2 separate regions of the Homo sapiens genome follow, and region 2 is linked to region 1. Evidence: fine-mapped expression QTL. A gene starts in region 1. The other region holds a variant in brackets. All regions are shown on one strand. Distances are from middle to middle.

What was found.
Region 2: its variant is fine-mapped to the expression of SMOC2 in esophagus muscle (GTEx, PIP 0.93).

The regions. Positions count from the first base shown.
Region 1 is chr6:168,436,363-168,445,330 of GRCh38, reverse strand. SMOC2 (SPARC related modular calcium binding 2) reads right to left here and starts at 4,147. Exons shown (of 13, transcript NM_001166412.2): 1 at 3,877-4,147. The coding sequence starts at 3,960.
Region 2 is chr6:168,607,150-168,616,117 of GRCh38, reverse strand. It overlaps SMOC2 (SPARC related modular calcium binding 2), which reads right to left. Exons shown (of 13, transcript NM_001166412.2): 9 at 7,879-7,961. Among named protein-coding and RNA genes, the nearest start is that of SMOC2, 170 kb to the right of the region's middle. RefSeq lists a cis regulatory region at 3,078 and an enhancer at 2,994-3,163. The variant C/T (reference allele first, on the strand shown) is at 3,565.

The sequences.
Region 1 (8,968 bases):
AAGAGGCATTTACCAGGTGCCAGACCCTCTGTGAGAAGATGAGGATTCAGGATGAAAGTCAACTACAGTCTGAGAGGTGAAACGGCAGTGTGGAATTGTAAAGTTCCTGAAGACAGTGCAAAAAACAGTGCAGGGAACTCCCACGAAGAAAGAAAAATAATGGCAGGATGACTTGAGAAATATTCGGATCTGCTTAGTGACCAGGTGCCCTTCAGAGTCTCTCAAAACTTCAGTTTCCTCATCTCTTGAATGTGGAGACAACGGTACCTTTAACGAAGTCGTGCGTATGACCTTAGGGGAGCGTTAGGTATTGGCAGTAAGAGAAGTCTGAGAAGGATGGTAATGTGACTTCAACATTCTAAGTGTGAGCAAAATATGATTTAGTCAACATGGGAATGAATACTTTGGCTCTAACCAAAAACTTCTGGGAAAGGGGTCCCAGGCAATATTGTTCTTCTCTCTGCCTTTAAAGAAATCACCTAGGTATGGGCTTATGGATCAGTCCATCAAAATTCATATAATGACAACCATGATAAAGTTGAGTAATTGTGATCACGCCTGTTTGCTCTTTGAAAACAGAATTATGTGTAATAAAAACCATTTATACTAGAGATCATTCCCTCATCTCAGTCATTCACAGAAATAAAAAGGAAAATGGGCACGGTGTGGCATTCAATGTACCTCCTTCTTCAAGGAAGAAATTGACCTGCATCCAAATTAAGAGCGCATTGGACACACTTAAGAATGCCATTGTTGACTGGAGGTGAGAGGGTCTGAGCAATAACCAGGAAGTTGTGCAAAGCCATCAGAAAGTCACAATGAGAGACACAGAGGGCCTCATGGTGCCATTTCTAAAGAATGACTTTGGTGGAAAGAAGAGAGATCATTACCAGACAAAGTGGATTCTCTGAATCTTAAACATAAAGTAGCAGAGGTGAGCACACCAGCAATGCTGGACCCACCAAGAAAGCACACTCACCATAGGTGAGTAAGACAAATGCGTGGTCCTGAGAAGCCAGGTATGGCAAACTGAAAGCCCCAGAGAGGCTGACATATTTCCCTGCTTCTAGATGAGAAGAAATGAATGGAGTAGAAGGAGGCAGAGAGGCAAGCTTTCCTCCTTGGTCTATAGAGTCCCACATGGCTACTCCCACAAAGTCCACAGATACACCCAGAGCCAAGTGGTGTGCTCTGAGAATCTGCGGCAGGTGAAAATACTGCAAAGTTGAATCCACACACACCTTAATGCCACAACGCTATATGCATTGATAATTACGGTATCAATTGATAGCACTCTCTTATACGGACCCACGGCATGGGCACCATCAAAACAATGTTAGCTGGAGAACTCACATATAGTAGGCGCATTAAAAGCCCTACCTTTAATCCTCACCACATGCTTGAAAGAGATTATGTATTCTCATTTTACAGATAAGGGGACTGAAGATTATGAAATTAAGTAACTTGCCTGAAGTCACACATCCAGCAAGACCCTAAGCTGTGGGTCCCACCCACTGCATGGACTGATACTGCCTCTTGATTTATTAAAGTAGGTAGGATGCAAATCGTAGGGAGAGAAGGCCCTTCTTTGAATGAGGGCCTCCGGAGACAAAAGAGATTTCCAAAAACCAGAAGGCAATTTGAAAAGAGATGAGCACACTGAAAAATCCTGCACATCTCACATCTCCCAGCGACCAGTCAGATTTCAGGCCTGCCTCAGTTACTTTGTAACTCAACTACTTCTTGATTTTCTAGACTGGGGGTGGGGTGAGAAGAAGTGTGCCAAAATGTGTTATGGCTTTAATCTTTTCTTCGGGATACTGATTTTATTTGCAAATGTAAATTTCAGGCAAACTGTTCTTGGGGAATGCAGCCAACAGGGCAAAGCCCACGTGGGGTATCAGCTCCTGCACAGAGACCCCACATGCAGCGGGTCTCACCGCAACCCAAGACATCCTTGGGGCAACCTCAAGGGGGCAAAAGGTGAGAGGGTTCAAGTAAATAGTTAGATGAGACAGGGGAGAGAAGACAAGAAAACCTGCCGAGTCTTAAACTGTTCTAATTACTAACTACCTTGATTCTGCTCTTCCAGGGGGGACCAACAGGCCCAACCCCACCCCCCACACACACAGGGCAGCAGGCAGATGGCAGTCTCTACTTTTTGCGCTTTCAGAAAATCTGAAAATCCGTGGCAACTGTAGGTACCTGCTGCTACAGTCCTGGAAGAAAATGCTATGATCTCCTTTGGAGAATTGGCCTTAGTTTCTCTGTCTCCTCTAGTGTGCTTTAAGAGTATGTGGGGGGTCTTTTTGTGAGTGTATACGTGAGTATATTTATGTCTAGATGCATGTACAGATGTGCATATACATGAATGCCTCCAGTGAGTATCCTCTGAGGGCCCCCTCTGGGGAGATAAAGGATCTTCAGGGAAAGCCTGAGTGTGTGAAAACCTCCTTGGAGCCCCAGTTAGCAGTTTCTAATCTACAAGTCATTTGTGAGACACAAGGCAGGGACCCCGGGCTGCTGCAGAAGAATTTGAGGTATGAGCAATGAACTCACAAACCATCCTTCACACTGCTAAAACGCAAAAGAAAGAAGACGAAGAAAAAGAAAAAGAAAAAGAAAAGATGCCCACATGACTGTTTTAAATTTGCTGAAAGGCAGAACCGACCACAGCTTATTTCAACCATCTTTATTTTCAATACAATAAACACCTTTAGGACAAGTCCCCGGCCACTTAAAAAAGACGGCTGTCCACCAGAGGCGTTCTCACTACCTTCGTGTTTTCTCAAACACTTGTTCAAAAACACATTTAAGTGGAATGTTTTCGTTTCTGGCGATTGCATTAATGATGGGTTTGCAAACCCTGCAAGCCCAGGAGGACGGCTGGAGCTGGGGGCTGCAGACACCCGGCCTTGGCCCAGCGGCCGCCGCGGGTTGGCTTGGCCGGCGGGGGCTTGGCTCAGCCCCCTCTACATAGCTCCTCGTTTGACACCGCGTGCGTTGGCCGGGCCAAGGCTGTCGCATAGAAGTTACAGCTCAGAAAGAAAAACACACAGCGGTCAACCGCGGTGACCCTCGCGCTCAGGAGCGCAGCATCCCTGCCACGAGGAAGAACCCAGAGGCCCCGCAGAGCGGGGAGCCGCCGCCTGCCTCCAGTTCTGTCCTGAGAAGGGAAGAAAGCGCTTCTCTAATAACACTCAGGCCCGTGAAGAATCATCTGTAACCTCATCTGCTTCTTCCTCGGCTCACTTACGAGGGTCTCTGGGAGAGTCAGACCCACGAGTGGGGCCCACGACTGGCAGCCCCTTCAGCCGGCGAGAGGCCCGGGATCCGCGCGGCGCACGAGCCCAAAGCGGTCGGGAGAACACGCTCCAGGCCGGGTCCCCGTGGGCGAGGTGGGCGCCCAGTCCCGGCGGGTCTGTCTTGGCCTTGGGACAGTCCGCGGGGCGGCGCCGGCGCTCCCAGACCTGGTTCCCCACAGGCTCAGGCCCAGCAGTGAGTGCGGGACACCCGAGCGCACCCGCAGCTCCCACTTGTCCGGGGTCTGCAGGACCCCAGGATCCTCTCACAGCCGGGTCAGAGCCCCCGAGGCAGGTGGGGTCCCAGCCGGGTGGAACCCGAGGAGCCCGTCGCAGCCGCAGCAGGACCCCGGCGGGCAGGGTCCCCAGAAGCCCATCCCAGCCGGGTCCCAGGCGCGCACGCTGCGTCCTACCTGCTCCAGCCTCGCCGGCAGGCGAAGGCTCCACGGCCCCCGGGGCCACCTGCTCCCCGTGCCCAGGCGCCTGGGCCTGGAGCGGGGCGCGGGGACCCGAACCCGGCCGGCTGCAAGAGGCGGCACCACTTGAGCTCCAGGTCCCGCGGGCCCGGGCTTACCGTGAGCGCCGAGAACTTCTGAGCGGGCACCGGCGGGAGCAGCCCAGCGAGCAGCGGCAGCCAGCAGAGCTGGGGGAGCAGCATGGTGGCGGAGGTGGCGGGAGCGGGAGATCGGCCGCGTCCTGCGCCCTGGCACTGCAGCCGGGAGAGCCCAGTGGGCGAGCGCGGCTGGGCGGGCGCGTGGAGGGGCGGCTCCGCGATGCTCTCCCCACCGCTCCCGGCGGCCCGGCTGGAGCAGCTCCCCTGCAGGCACCCAGAGGTCCTCCGCGTTCTTTGCGTCCGCCCTCGCTCCTGTCAAATACCCCGGAGCTTCCCGGATCCTCCCCTCCCGCCCGCCTCTCTCCCTCCCCCTCTCCTCCCCCAGCCCCACCTCCCAGCGCCCGCTGCCGCGCCCGCTCCGCTCCGGTGCCCGCTGCGGCCCAGAGGCCTCCCTGGCGCGGGTCTGCGGAGCGAGAGGTGGAGCGGGGGCCACCAGGGCTGCGCAGTGGCCTGTCCGGGCTGTCTCTGTGCCTCCTTCCCCGCGCGCACTCTCACACACACACGTGCACACTTACACACACGCACACCCAGGCACACGCACGCACTCATACCCACGCGCGCGCACCCTCGGGGGGCTTCCAAGCACAACCACGGGACGCACCGCGCCCTCCTCACGCCCCAGGGTCCAGGCCCGGTCCGCGCAGGATCAGCCCAGCGGGACTTTTCATCCACAAAGGTTAACGCCAAGCCTTGGCCGGTCCCCAGACTCCGGGGTTCTCCTTGACCTCTGCCCTCTAAGGCCCCCTGGTCCAGCCCAGAACATTGCCTCTCAGAGGTGCTGAAGGATCAGCGGCGCTCCAGCAAAGGCAGCTGGGAACACATGTCCAGGAAAGGCTGCGCCGGGGGCAGCCCGCCTTTGGCATCTTTACACGGGGTTATCCACTGCAGGGATGGGGGAATTTAGGTCCTAAAGATCCGGGGTCTGACCTGGGCTGTAGCCTTGATCCTCTCAAGTCGGGGGAGCATGTGGTTGGGCATCATTCACAGACACATGTGGCTGTTTTTAAACAGCTCTGTCAAAGCATTTCAGGTGTTTGTGCGGGGAGCACAGGGCTTGTGGAGGTTGTAAACTCACCCACGAAGACTACGTTGGAAACCAGGAAATTTTTGCACACCCAGACTCTGGATAATATCCACTGCAGACAACATTGCTGACATAGTTTAGCCTTGGCTTATAACTTTACAGGAAAAAGCCCTAATTCTGTCTCACACAGAAAGCCAGAAGAGTGAAGATTTGTTCAAGAACAATGAATCAATTGACTTGTCAGGGGCATTGGGAAAAGCACAAAACACAGAAAATCCAAATCTGAGGTTTCATCCGATGTCTAGCCCACTGCTTTGGCTATGAACTTTGGGGGAGGGGGCTGTATCAGCAAGTTCTGGGACTGGCTGCTGAGGCAAAGGCAATGCTATTGCAACCTTTCCCACACAATTTTATCAGGAAAGTGATGTCCGTCGGGCCACGGAAAGACGGGAAAGAAATGCACCTTTTCCTGAAGGAGGGCTACTCTCAGAATTCTCCTTAAAATTCCAAAGCCCAGGGAATCTATTAAGCACTTAAACACATTCCTCCTGGTTTAAGGACTTAGAAGGAAATTATAATAAAACTCTTGAGGGACTGCTCCTGGGTCCAGAAAAACAGGTGAGCAGAGCAGCTGCAAATGATTAAGTAAATAGGAATCACTGTTAGGGAACTGCAGTGAAAATTAAAGTAAAAAGAAAATAAACACTACATACCACTAATTCTAAGATTATCCAAAGAATAAAATTTACACTCGAAGCTGACATACTTCCTTTAAGAAGTATTTGCTACTAAAGAACCTGTTTTTCACTTTCCACTTTGTTGAGAGTACTGCTCGTCAGAACTCAAAAGTTTGAAAGCATGTTCATTTATCCACCATCGTCCGCTGCAAGAATGGCAGACAAGAAGCAGACTTAATTATTCCCATTCTACAGATGAGGAACAAAAGTCAAAGGGGCCAAATGTCTTAGCCAGATCTCCTAAGCAACAAAATCATAAACAGAATGCAGATGTTAAAACCTGCAATACTGGCAAATCCATGTCACTTCCTCTGGCAATATGGAGAACAGAAGAAAATCCTTGGCCCTCCGTGCCTTGTATTCAAGAATCCCAACACGTCTTTCATGTAGCAACTCCAGAATCCTCTGGGAACTCTAGGAAGATAAATGAAATGCATTTGTCCAAAACTCTGACAGATGAGGCAGGTTTGGAGCCTTTGAAACCCCTTTCAAATCTGGAGGAGCTCATGTGTCCTGAATGCCAAATTTTAGTTTCTCAAAATTCTAGAAATGGAGTTTGGAGAGATAATCAGGTTCCATTTTTATGGAGAAAAACAATACATTTATTTAAAACACTGGGAAAGAGTTATGTCTGTCTTTTATTTGTAAGTCTCCAAGAAAGTTATTACTGGCAGGAATGCCAGAGAGCTGTCATGTTAGAAAGGATAGAAAAGTAATTCACTCAGTTCAAAGTTAAGACAGGAAGTGATCAGCTCTATACTTTCCAGAGAGTTCCTCTAGGATGCAGGAAGAAGTTCCCCTCTCTTGGAAATGTAGGTTTTTTTGTTTTTTTTTTTAATTAAAAAGTGATGCAGGGCCCATTCTAAAATGTGGCTTATGCATTCAGAATTTAAATGCCTGTCACTGATGAAAGTTACAATAAAGAACAGCAAGAGAAACTAATTACCAAAGACTCCAGCTGTTTTCACATTTCTAAACTAACTTTCCCTCTTAGGCCATTAGCAAAATGCTTTATCATGAGTATTGGCTTCCTTTTTATTTATTTTACTATGCTAAAACTGCAAAAGGATTTTATTTTCATTATAGAAATGATATAATTTAGTTATTATTTCTGGCTAATTCATGTTTAGCCAGAAAACTTTTTGTCAGCTATTTTCCCATCTCAATATGCCAAGCATAAGTTTAGTCAAATATCTCTTTGTTGATGCAGTGACTTCCAGAAATCCCCTCTGCCATCACTCTGAGTATCATCTGGGACTGAACTCAGGTCACTGTTCATACTCTGAGAATCACCCCACATCATCAGTCACCTGCCAGTCACTTATTAATGTTTTCTCCTAGTTTCTACTTAATCATGGGAGCAGGAGTTTTCACCGTTCACCTGGACTTTCTTAGGTAAGTTCTGTGTGATTTTCCTTTTAGACTACCCCCAGGCTGGACCCGAGAATCTGTAGTTCCCCAGGTTTCTGGAGTCTCTGTCCTCTTGTTGGCTTGTTCATTCTGATGACTTGCATCTTCCTTTTAACTTGTTCCCTTCAACCTACGGAAAAATGATGCAGGATCCCCACATCAATCCCAGGTTTTTAGCCCAAGTTCTGCAGCTTCACAAACCTGTGAGCCATATAGAAAGGAAACCACATCGGCAGAGTTGACAAAATCAGAACAGAGCACCGCCGAGGCTCACCGTCACCGCGGCTGCAGGATGAGGCCAGCGTTGACACACCACGTTGAAAAGTGGACAGTGGAGTTGTGTGTTTGATCCTTGGGCCTGACTCAATGGCTTTCTTCCTATTTTGATATATTTAAGTAACAGAGAATTTGGACTTTGTGCTCAACAAAATAATTAAACAAGTTTCTTCTTTTTTTTTTTTTTTTTTGAGATGGAGTCTTGCTCTGTTGCCCAGGCTGGAGTGCAGTGGTGCAATCTCGGCTCACTGCAAGCTCTCCCTCCCGGGTTCACACCATTCTCCTGCCTCAGCCTCCCGAGTAGCTGGGACTACAGGCGCCCACCACCACGCCCAGCTAATTTTTTGTATTTTTAGTAGAGACGGGGTTTCACTGTGTTAGCCAGGATGGTCTCCATCTCCTGACCTCGTGATCCGCCCACCTCGGCCTCCCAAAGTGCTGAGATTACAGGCGTGAGCCACCGCGCCCGGCCTCTTCTTCCTTCTTAAGATGCCTGAGGACAATTTTTATGATAATACTTTTCAGGCACTTTGTGGCAAATTTTTAAAAAATAATTTCAGCTTTTATTTTAGACTCGGGGGCACACGTGCAGGTTTGTGACATGGACATATTGTGTGACTCTGAGGTTTGGGGTATGAAAGACGCAGAGAGTGAGCATAGCACCCAATAAGCAGTTTTATCAGCCCTTGTTCCCTGCCCCACCTTTCTAGCAGGCCCTGGTGTCTACTGTTCCTTCTTTATCTCTGTGTGTACCCAGTGTCTCATTTCTTCTTTATCTCAATGTGTACCCAGTGTCTAGCTCCCGCTTATGAGTGAGAACATCCAGTATTTGCATGTCTGTTCCTGCATTAATTCACTTAGGATCATGGCCTCCAGTTGCATCTATGTTGCTGCAAAGGACATGCTTCCGTTCTTTTGTGGCTACATAGTATTCCGTGGTGTCTATGTACTACATTTTCCTTGTCCAGTCCACTACTGATGGGCACCTAGGTTAATTCCATGTCTTTGCAATTGTGACCGGTGATGCAATTAACATACAAGGGCTTGTGTCTTTTTTGTAGATGGTTTATTTTCCTTTGGATACATACCCAGTAATGGGATTGCTGGATCGAATGGGAGTTCTATTTTTAGTTCTTTGAGAAATCCCCAAACTTCTTCCCACAGTGGCTGAAATAATTTACATTCCCACCTACAGTGTATAAACATTCCATTTTCTCTGCTGCCTCAGCAGGATCTGTTGCTTTTTGACTTTTTAATAATAGCCATTCTGACTGGTGGGAGATGGTATCTCATTGTGGTTTTGATTTGCATTTCTCTGATGATCAATGATGCTGAGCATTTTTTAATATGTTTGTTGGCTTCTCGCATGTCTTCTTTTGAGAAGTGTCTGTTCATGTCCTTTGCCCACTTTTTACTGGGGTTGTTCTTTTGCTTATTGCGTTGTTTCAGTGCCTTCAGACTCTGGATATTAGACCTTTGTCCCATGCATAGTTTGCAAATATTTTCTCCCATTCTATGGGTTGTCTGTCCACTCTGCTGATCGTTTCTTTTGCGTGCAGAAGCTCTTTAGTTTAATTAGGTCCCACTTGCCAATTTTTTTGTTGCA
Region 2 (8,968 bases), 170 kb before region 1:
GTGTCACCTTTGTGAGGCTCTCAAAGGCCACCAAGCGAGGTCCTGGCCGGCTCCTGTCTGCTTTGTAGAAAAGGTAAACACCGAGGTCCTTACATGTCACATGATACCTGGCAGGAATGTGTTGCTCCTGATCTAACTACCTTTTGGAAAATGTCCTAAGCTCCACTTAGGGCAAGGTAAGGTTCATTTTATGCTCTCTCAGAAAACCATAACTAATCTTCAAAAAATTAGAATAGTGCTAAAATCGTGTCTGAAAAATCCAGGTGTTGCCTCTAAGGTTTCTACATGAGTCAAAGACGATAATTATGCCAGCAATTGCTTGGGGCCCCAAGAAAAAAGATGCTCCTGGCTGTAGATGTGAAGAGACCCTGTGCTGGCTGTAGGTATGAAGAGGCCCCCTGTGCTGGCTGTAGGTGTGAAGAGGCCCTGTGCTGGCTGTAGGTGTGAAGAGGCCCCCTGTGCTGGCTGTAGGTATGAAGAGGCCCTGTGCTGGCTGTAGGTGTGAAGAGGCCCCCTGTGCTGGCTGTAGGTATGAAGAGGCCCTGTGCTGGCTGTAGATGTAAAGAGGCCCTGTGCCGGCTGTAAGTATGAAGATGAAGAGACCCTGTGCTGGCTGTAGGTGTGAAGAGGCCGTGTGCTGGCTGTAGGTGTGAAGAGGCCCTGTGCTGGCTGTAGGTGTGAAGAGGCCCCCTGTGCTGGCTGTAGGTGTGAAGAGGCCCTGTGCTGGCTGTAGGTGTGAAGAGGCCCCCTGTGCTGGCTGTAGGTGTGAAGAGGCCCTGTGCTGGCTGTAGGTGTGAAGAGGCCCCGTGCTGGCTGTAGGTGTGAAGAGGCCCCATGCTGGCTGTAGGTGTGAAAAGGCCCCGTGCTGGCTGTAGGTGTGAAGAGGCCCCGTGCTGGCTGTAGGTATAAAGAGGCCCTGTGCTGGCTGTAGGTGTGAAGAGGCCCTGTGCTGGCTGTAGGTGTGAAGAGGCCCCCTGTGCTGGCTGTAGATGTAAAGAGGCCCCCTGTGCTGGCTGTAGGTGTGAAGAGGCCCTGTGCCGGCTGTAAGTATGAAGAGGCCCTGTGCTGGCTGTAGATGTGAAGAGGCCCTGTGCTGGCTGTAGGTATGAAGAGGCCCTGTGCTGGCTGTAGGTGTGAAGAGGCCCTGTGCTGGCTGTAGGTGTGAAGAGGTACTGTGCTGGCTGTAGGTGTGAAGAGGCCCCCTGTGCTGGCTGTAGGTGTGAAGAGGTCCCCTGTGCTGGCTGTAGGTGTGAAGAGGCCCTGTGCTGGCTGTAGGTGTGAAGAGGCCCTGTGCTGGCTGTAGGTATGAAGAGGCCCTGTGCTGGCTGTAGGTGTGAAGAGGCCCTGTGCTGGCTGTAGGTGTGAAGAGGCCCTGTGCTGGCTGTAGGTGTGAAGAGGCTCCATGTGCTGGCTGTAGGTGTGAAGAGGCCCTGTGCTGGCTGTAGGTGTGAAGAGGCCCTGTGCTGGCTGTAGGTGTGAAGAGGCCCTGTGCTGGCTGTAGGTGTGAAGAGGCCCCCTGTGCTGGCTGTAGGTGTGAAGAGGCCCCCTGTGCTGGCTGTAGGTATGAAGAGGCCCTGTGCTGGCTGTAGGTGTGAAGAGGCCCTGTGCTGGCTGTAGGTGTGAAGAGGCCCTGTGCTGGCTGTAGGTGTGAAGAGGCTCCATGTGCTGGCTGTAGGTGTGAAGAGGCCCTGTGCTGGCTGTAGGTATAAAGAGGCCCTGTGCTGGCTGTAGGTATGAAGAGGCCCTGTGCTGGCTGTAGGTATGAAGAGGTCCTGTGCTGGCTGTAGGTATGAAGAGGCCCTGTGCTGGCTGTAGGTGTGAAGAGGCCCTGTGCTGGCTGTAGGTATAAAGAGGCCCTGTGCTGGCTGTAGGTGTGAAGAGGCTCCATGTGCTGGCTGTAGGTGTGAAGAGGCTCTGTGCTGGCTGTAGGTGTGAAGAGGCCCCCTGTGCTGGCTGTAGGTGTGAAGAGGCCCCCTGTGCTGGCTGTAGGTGTGAAGAGGCTCCATGTGCTGGCTGTAGGTATGAAGAGGCCCTGTGCTGGCTGTAGGTGTGAAGAGGCCCCCTGCTGGCTGTAGGTGTGAAGAGGCCCCCTGTGCTGGCTGTAGGTGTGAAGAGGCCCTGTGCTGGCTGTAGGTGTGAAGAGGCCCCCTGTGCTGGCTGTAGGTGTGAAGAGGCCCTGTGCTGGCTGTAGGTGTGAAGAGGCCCCCTGTGCTGGCTGTAGGTGTGAAGAGGTCCTGTGCTGGCTGTAGGTGTGAAGAGGCCCCCTGTGCTGGCTGTAGGTGTGAAGAGGTCCTGTGCTGGCTCTAGGAGAAGAGGCCCTGTGCTGGCTGTAGGTGTGAAGAGGCCCTGTGCTGGCTGTAGGTGTGAAGAGGCCCCCTGTGCTGGCTGTAGGTGTGAAGAGGCCCTGTGCTGGCTGTAGGTGTGAAGAGGCCCTGTGCTGGCTGTAGGTGTGAAGAGGCTCCATGTGCTGGCTGTAGGTGTGAAGAGGCCCCCTGTGCTGGCTGTAGATGTGAAGAGGCACTGTGCCATGCCCTTTAGGGAGAGGCCTTGACCATTCATGAAGTCTGCTGGGTCCATAGAGCTTCCAGAAACACTTGGGTGAGAGGCTGTTTGACCAAAATAAAGACCATTTCTTAGACTGTGTGCCAGGCGGAAGAGCTCTGGGGATCCAGGAGAGGACCCTGGCTTGGGGTACAGGGCAGTAACAGAGGGGCCATGCCCAGGCTCCCCAAGGGGCTCCTCATGCCGCCCCCTCTGTCCTCACACTGGTGCCACTGCTGAACCACCAACATCAGGACACCCACAGAAAGACAGTGCTGTTTTCACCTGAGCTGGTGGAGGAAGGAATGGCTCACAGGATACGTCAGACTTCCCCTGCACCTTCCTGACCCCCAGGGCCCAGCTCCTGTGCTGCCTTTGGGGTGGCCTGGACCACAGTGCCTGAGAGTGAGATCAGACTGCACGCAGCGCAGATCGTCACAATGACGAAAATGTGAGCGTTCCCTGCCAGTGTAGACTGAAATGAAGCAACGCCCAGAGGAAAGCCAGTCTGCTCATTCGAATACGATTGGTCCTGAGAATGAGAGTCAGCCGGAAAACCGTATCCGAGAGTGAAAGACACAATTGCATGATCAGGAAAGGTGAGAGGAAACCCTGCACTCTAGGCCATGAAATCACTTATTTTGACTTCACTTTAGATCAAAGTCTCCATTGTAAGTTTTCGAGCCAACTCTCCTTGGCCGATGCTCCTGCCCTGAACCTGCCGGCGACTGGGCCTGCTCTGCTCTGGACAGGTGCATCTCCCTGCACCTCTGTCTTTCGCCTGCATCTCCTCTCTGACAAGGTTGTGCCGATGGCCTCTTGCATTGCCGCGCCGAGGGCCTACGAGCCTGAATCACAAATGGAGCCGGTGCCGCAGCTGAGGCAAGCAAGGGACTGTTCTGGCTTTTTCCCCTCTCACTCAGCAGAAGGGGCCCTGAGGACTGATGGAGATCACGAACCCAGTGCTGCTGTTTGAGTAAAGGCTGGGGTCACCCTCTCCCCTGATGGAGATCACGAACCCAG[C/T]GCTGCTGTTTGAGTAAAGGCTGGGGTCACCCTCTCCCCGATGGAGATCATGAACCCAGCACTGCTGTTTGAGTAAAGGCTGCGGTCACCCTCTCCCCGATGGAGATCACGAACCCAGCACTGCTCTTCAGGTAAAGGCTGGGGTCACCCTCTCCCCTGATGGAGATCACGAACCCAGTGCTGCTGTTTGAGTAAAGGTTGGGGTCACCCTCTCCCCTGATGGAGATCACGAACCCAGCGCTGCTGTTTGAGTAAAGGCTGGGGTCACCCTCTCCCCTGATGGAGATCACGAACCCAGCGCTGCTGTTTGAGTAAAGGCTGCAGTCACCCTCTCCCCGATGGAGATCACGAACCCAGCACTGCTCTTCAGGTAAAGGCTGGGGTCACCCTCTCCCCACACTGGAAAGCCCATTCAAGACCAGTGCTGCGGGGCCCTAGATAAGCAAAACCACATGGCTAGTAAGTCAAAGCTTACCAGTATCACTTAGCCAAAAAGTCTTCTAGTAGGAAAAGAAAACTGCCTACATCCTTCGTTCCACCTCGCGGATGCCGGGAACATGGAGGTGCAGTCTCCACCTCCCCAGGGACCCTGTGAGGCACGGGGCAGAGTCCACACCCACACCACACGCTGTGCCCCACCAGGTGGGAACAAGCTGGACAGGTGCATGTGAGTGGCCGGCCGCCTGGGCATCCTGAGGAAGCCGTCCTGAAGGATGTGTGGGAGGCACAGGAGCTAAGAGAGATGCAGCTCAAGCAGAGGGAAGAATTCCAGCAAGGCTCAGACACGGGAGCCACATCAGGGCCTGACATGGGAGCCACAGCCAGGCCCGACACGGGAGCCACGGTGGGTCCCGGACATGGGAACCAGAGCAGGGCCAGACATGGGAGCCACAGCCAGGCCCGACACGGGAGCCACGGTGGGTCCCGGACATGGGAACCAGAGCAGGGCCAGACATGGGAGCCACGGCCAGGCCCGACACGGGAGCCACAGTGGGTCCCGGACATGGGAACCAGAGCAGGGCCAGACATGGGAGCCACGGCCAGGCCCGACACGGGAGCCACGGTGGGTCCCGGACATGAGAACCAGTGCAGGGCCAGACATGGGAGCCACGGCCAGGCCCGACACGGGAGCCACGGTGGGTCCCGGACATGAGAACCAGAGCAGGGCCAGACATGGGAGCCACGGCCAGGCCCGACACGGGAGCCACGGTGGGTCCCGGACATGGGAACCAGAGCAGGGCCAGACATGGGAGCCACAGCCAGGCCCGACACGGGAGCCACGGTGGGTCCCGGACATGGGAACCAGAGCAGGGCCAGACATGGGAGCCACAGCCAGGCCCGACACGGGAGCCACATAGGGCCCAACAGACACACCACGGCCCCGACACAGGAGCCACAGCTCAATGCAAGTGCCTGGTTCTCCAGCCTCACATGAGGACCTGGGAGGATGTCAGGGGGCTGGGGAGGCTGGAGAGACAGAGTAACCCTGTTATTTAAAACACCAACCAGAGTGTGATCAGAGATGCCAGGGCAAAATAAAGTGAGGTGAACCTGTCCAAGAAGAAGGTGTGGTTTAGGAAGGGCTGGTTTAAGAAGATCTGGTTTAGGAAGGTGTGGTTTAAGAAGGTGTGGTTTTGTGCCTCTTTTTAGAATTTCTGCTACACAGGATGTGATAGTCCCAGGAGGAAACCTACACAATGAAAGAAGAACCTTCAAAAGCCAAAACGGTGACCCAGTCGTCACTATGTAGCCCCTTAAGCCAGACCTAGATCTCTTGTGCCATATAATAAAATGATGGCCTCCAAAGACTCAATGATCGTTTGCTGCCAAACACCTGCTAACTGTCCTACATAAGATGTGAATAAGTATTTGGTGACAAATCAACTGCTCACCCCAAACAAGTGAATTTTGTGTGAAAATATTATCAGCTTTACATGGAAAATAGAGGACCTACATTGGCAAAACCTTAGAAAAGCAACTTCAAAAGGAAACGGTACCTTTTAAGAATAAAATACATCAGCCTGCATGGGACCTGAAGGATCTTCCTACTCAAAGGCTGCTGTGTTATTTTGGAAATAGGTTTCTCCTCTCTACCAGGAACAGCCTCTATCCTGCAGCTATTTTAAGACCTACTTGTTTTTTCCTAATAAGGATAATTATCTCCAAATAATCAAAATAATTAAGTGGTCATGAACAGTGCACTCCCAAACATCTATGGCAACAGCACAAGCTGACCTTTGCACAGTTTGCGTCACGTGGCTTTGATGCCTCAGCAATCTGGTTTTCGTCTGAGGTGTGGGCAAGGAAACGCCGTCTTCATTGTGAGCATCTAACCATCCTTCTCCTCCTGTTTTAGCAGAGAGGAGCATGGTTTCTGACGTGCCCATCCTCACAGTGTGGGATGCTGTATCTCCAAATGGCACCTCTGACACTCAGAGAAGACAATGACATCATGTTTCTCAATATCAAGGACCAGTTGTTCTCACTGGACAAATGACTGTGTCATCTTTAAATCAATAGTCTGGGTCTAGAGTGTAACAGATTAGATTCCACCAGGAAAAGGTCTTCCTGCCACGTGCACTCCTGAGAGGCAGCAGAAGCCAGCCTCTGTCACGGTCCCTTTTACCAATGAGAAGCGAAACTGACTTCCATAAATTGCACTCGTATCACCTGTGTGAAGACCACAGTGCAGCTTGGCTTAGAAGTGATGCAACTTTGTGCTATCGAAAAAAAAAATAAGTTAAGAATCTTGGACTCTTCAAGAAGTACACTAGGGGCAAAAGACAGATTGAAGTGCACGTGACAAGGTCAAGACCAACCAAAACCAGGAAACATTTATTGAGGGCTTTCCATGCAGCAAGCATGTGAGAAGCTCATTATGTCTTTTAAGGAAACATCTTGCCCACCAATATTAAAATCGGACTTCAGAGACAAGAGATGACACCAGATAATGGAGGAGGAGAACTCCCTCCTGACAGGGCCATCAGGGGGATGGAATTCAGCCAGCAGCTGAGCACAGCCTGCAGACACGGGGTCAAAGGCAAAACACCCTTCACTAGGCATGCACAGGGACGGGTGTGTTTGCACCATCGTGATCTCTTCCCCCACCCTCACCTGCGAGATCCAGAAAGAAGCTGATTCATTCAACAGAAAGCAAGTTGATTGCTCACACAAGGACCATACTCTCATTAAAAAAAAATTACTAGAACCAACAGATTCCTCAAACCTGCCTCACAAGGAAGACACTGAGGAGGTACACGGCTGGGAAACCATGAAGAACTAAGACAAAGACAGTTCCTAACAAGCCAGCCCAGTGAGCTGCACGGTGTTTACCAAGAGCTGGCAGAATAACTGTGCTGTGTGTCCCCGGAACCACATTCCGCCCTCTGCTTCCCTGTGTCAACCATTCTCGTTACTCATGTTGTGGAATCGCTATGAACACGTAGCAATGAAACATGTATAGACTGTGGACATTCTGCTCTACCCTGTCCTCATTTATAAGCCGAACATCTTTACTTTTTACAATTTAAAACCTTTCTACCAATGACAGTACAAATAGTACAGGAAGCACAAAAGTTTACTCATCCGGAATTCATCCAGTTTCTGTATGAGACAAGATCAAGCACGTACTCTAAACAAAGTACGCTGTAGTGTGATTTTCATGTCTCTGAGATGTTGGTTAAACATACACAATCTGGAGATATTTAGAGAAAAAAAGATCAAAATGAAACAAATGGCAAGTAGCTTTGAAGCTTCTTAATGATATATCAAATTCACCCCATGACGTCTTTTTGTGACTGCATTTTTCAATTATTATAAATTTTAATTCACCTCTGTTTAATTACAATATTTCTTTGTAATTAAACTCAATACATACATTCAACTCATGTTTTCTTAAAACCTAAACTTTAGCTTCATGAACTGTTGATTCAGTGAAAAAGGAATGTCAGAAAGTGACAGTGAAATGTAGGTAGAATGAATAAAGGGTTCTTTGGGCTGTGGGGTTCAGGAGCATCTAGAGAGGTTAGGGTGCTGTGTGCTGATCTGATTTGTGAGGGGCCCTTTCTTTCTCTTCCATGTCTGACCTTCCATACACAGCAGCAGGGAGGAAGCCCCCCAGGTGCTCCCCGTGTGGGCTCCTGGCCCCCTGTCTCCCTGCCTGGACTCAGGGCCCTCTGCAAGGAGGTAGGAGGCCTCAGAGTCAGACAGGCCCCCTGGGAAACAGAGTCAGATAAAGTCTTTTTCATTCCAAATTTGCAAGAAACTGCATGGTGGGGCCTGTGGATTCGGGCCACACTCGCGGGTGCTGCTCACCTTGTAGCTGGCGGCCCTTGTACAGGTCCCGGGCTTTGGCTGGGTGGGCCCTGGCCGTGTTGTCACATTTCGGCTGCTCGTACCTATGGGCGGGGGGAAGGCGGGGGAAGGAGAGAGAAAACAACGGGCTTGAGACCAGCTGTGGTTTGTCTTCCATTTCTGGAGTGTCCTACCCTAGCATACACCGTGACCTGTGGCTCTGATGCTATGACACCCATGACCTCCTCACTCCTTTCTGTCACCTTTGTGGATATTTGGCATAGAAAGCTATTGCTTGCAGTCAGTAGGAAGAAGCACACTGTGACTTCAATCACACAGCAGGGCCGTCTCTCCATCCCGTCTCTGAAATGAATCTCATCTAGCAGCTGCCAAGCACCCACACCTCCCCCTCCTCCCGTTGCAGGGTTGGATGGAGCAGCGCCCACACCTCCCCCTCCTCCCGTTGCAGGGTTGGATGGAGGAAGCACTTGGGTTGTTTCGTCAGAGCAGGAGTGTGTGCACGAGGACAGAGGGTGTGACCACTACCCCCACCCCGCCCAAGGAAAGGATGCAAAGGACTTCAGGATTTAGATTCCTGTAGCACCAAAGGCCAACTCATTTCCAATCCACCTCGTGAAGCTACGAAAGTCTGCCTCAGTGTTAAAAAAAAAAAAACGACTCTCTGGTCCCACTTAGCATCAATGACAAACTGCAGGTTAAGTCCTGAACAGACAGGGCTGACATCCAAGAGGGCAGGTGCCCTGGCTGCTGCGGTTGCAGAGCTCATGGGAGCAAGTGGCTCTGTGGTACTACTGAATTGGCAGTGGGAACCAGGGTGCCTGTCCCTAAGGGTGTCAGATTCAAATCCGGTAAACAGCTCATAAACACTGCCATATGCATGCCATTCAGCAGCCCTTGACCAAGGCCTGCTTTGCCTGGGTTTTATCCTTGTCCTGGGTGTAGGGCAAGGAGGAGACCCCTGCCACGCAGACCACCAGCCTCATCCAGTAGAGGAGGTGGACATTTAAACAGAGTGCGGGCCACCATGAGAACCTGCCTCCCGGAGCCCCCACCCCCAAGGAGGACAATCTTCCGCACACAGAAATCCTTC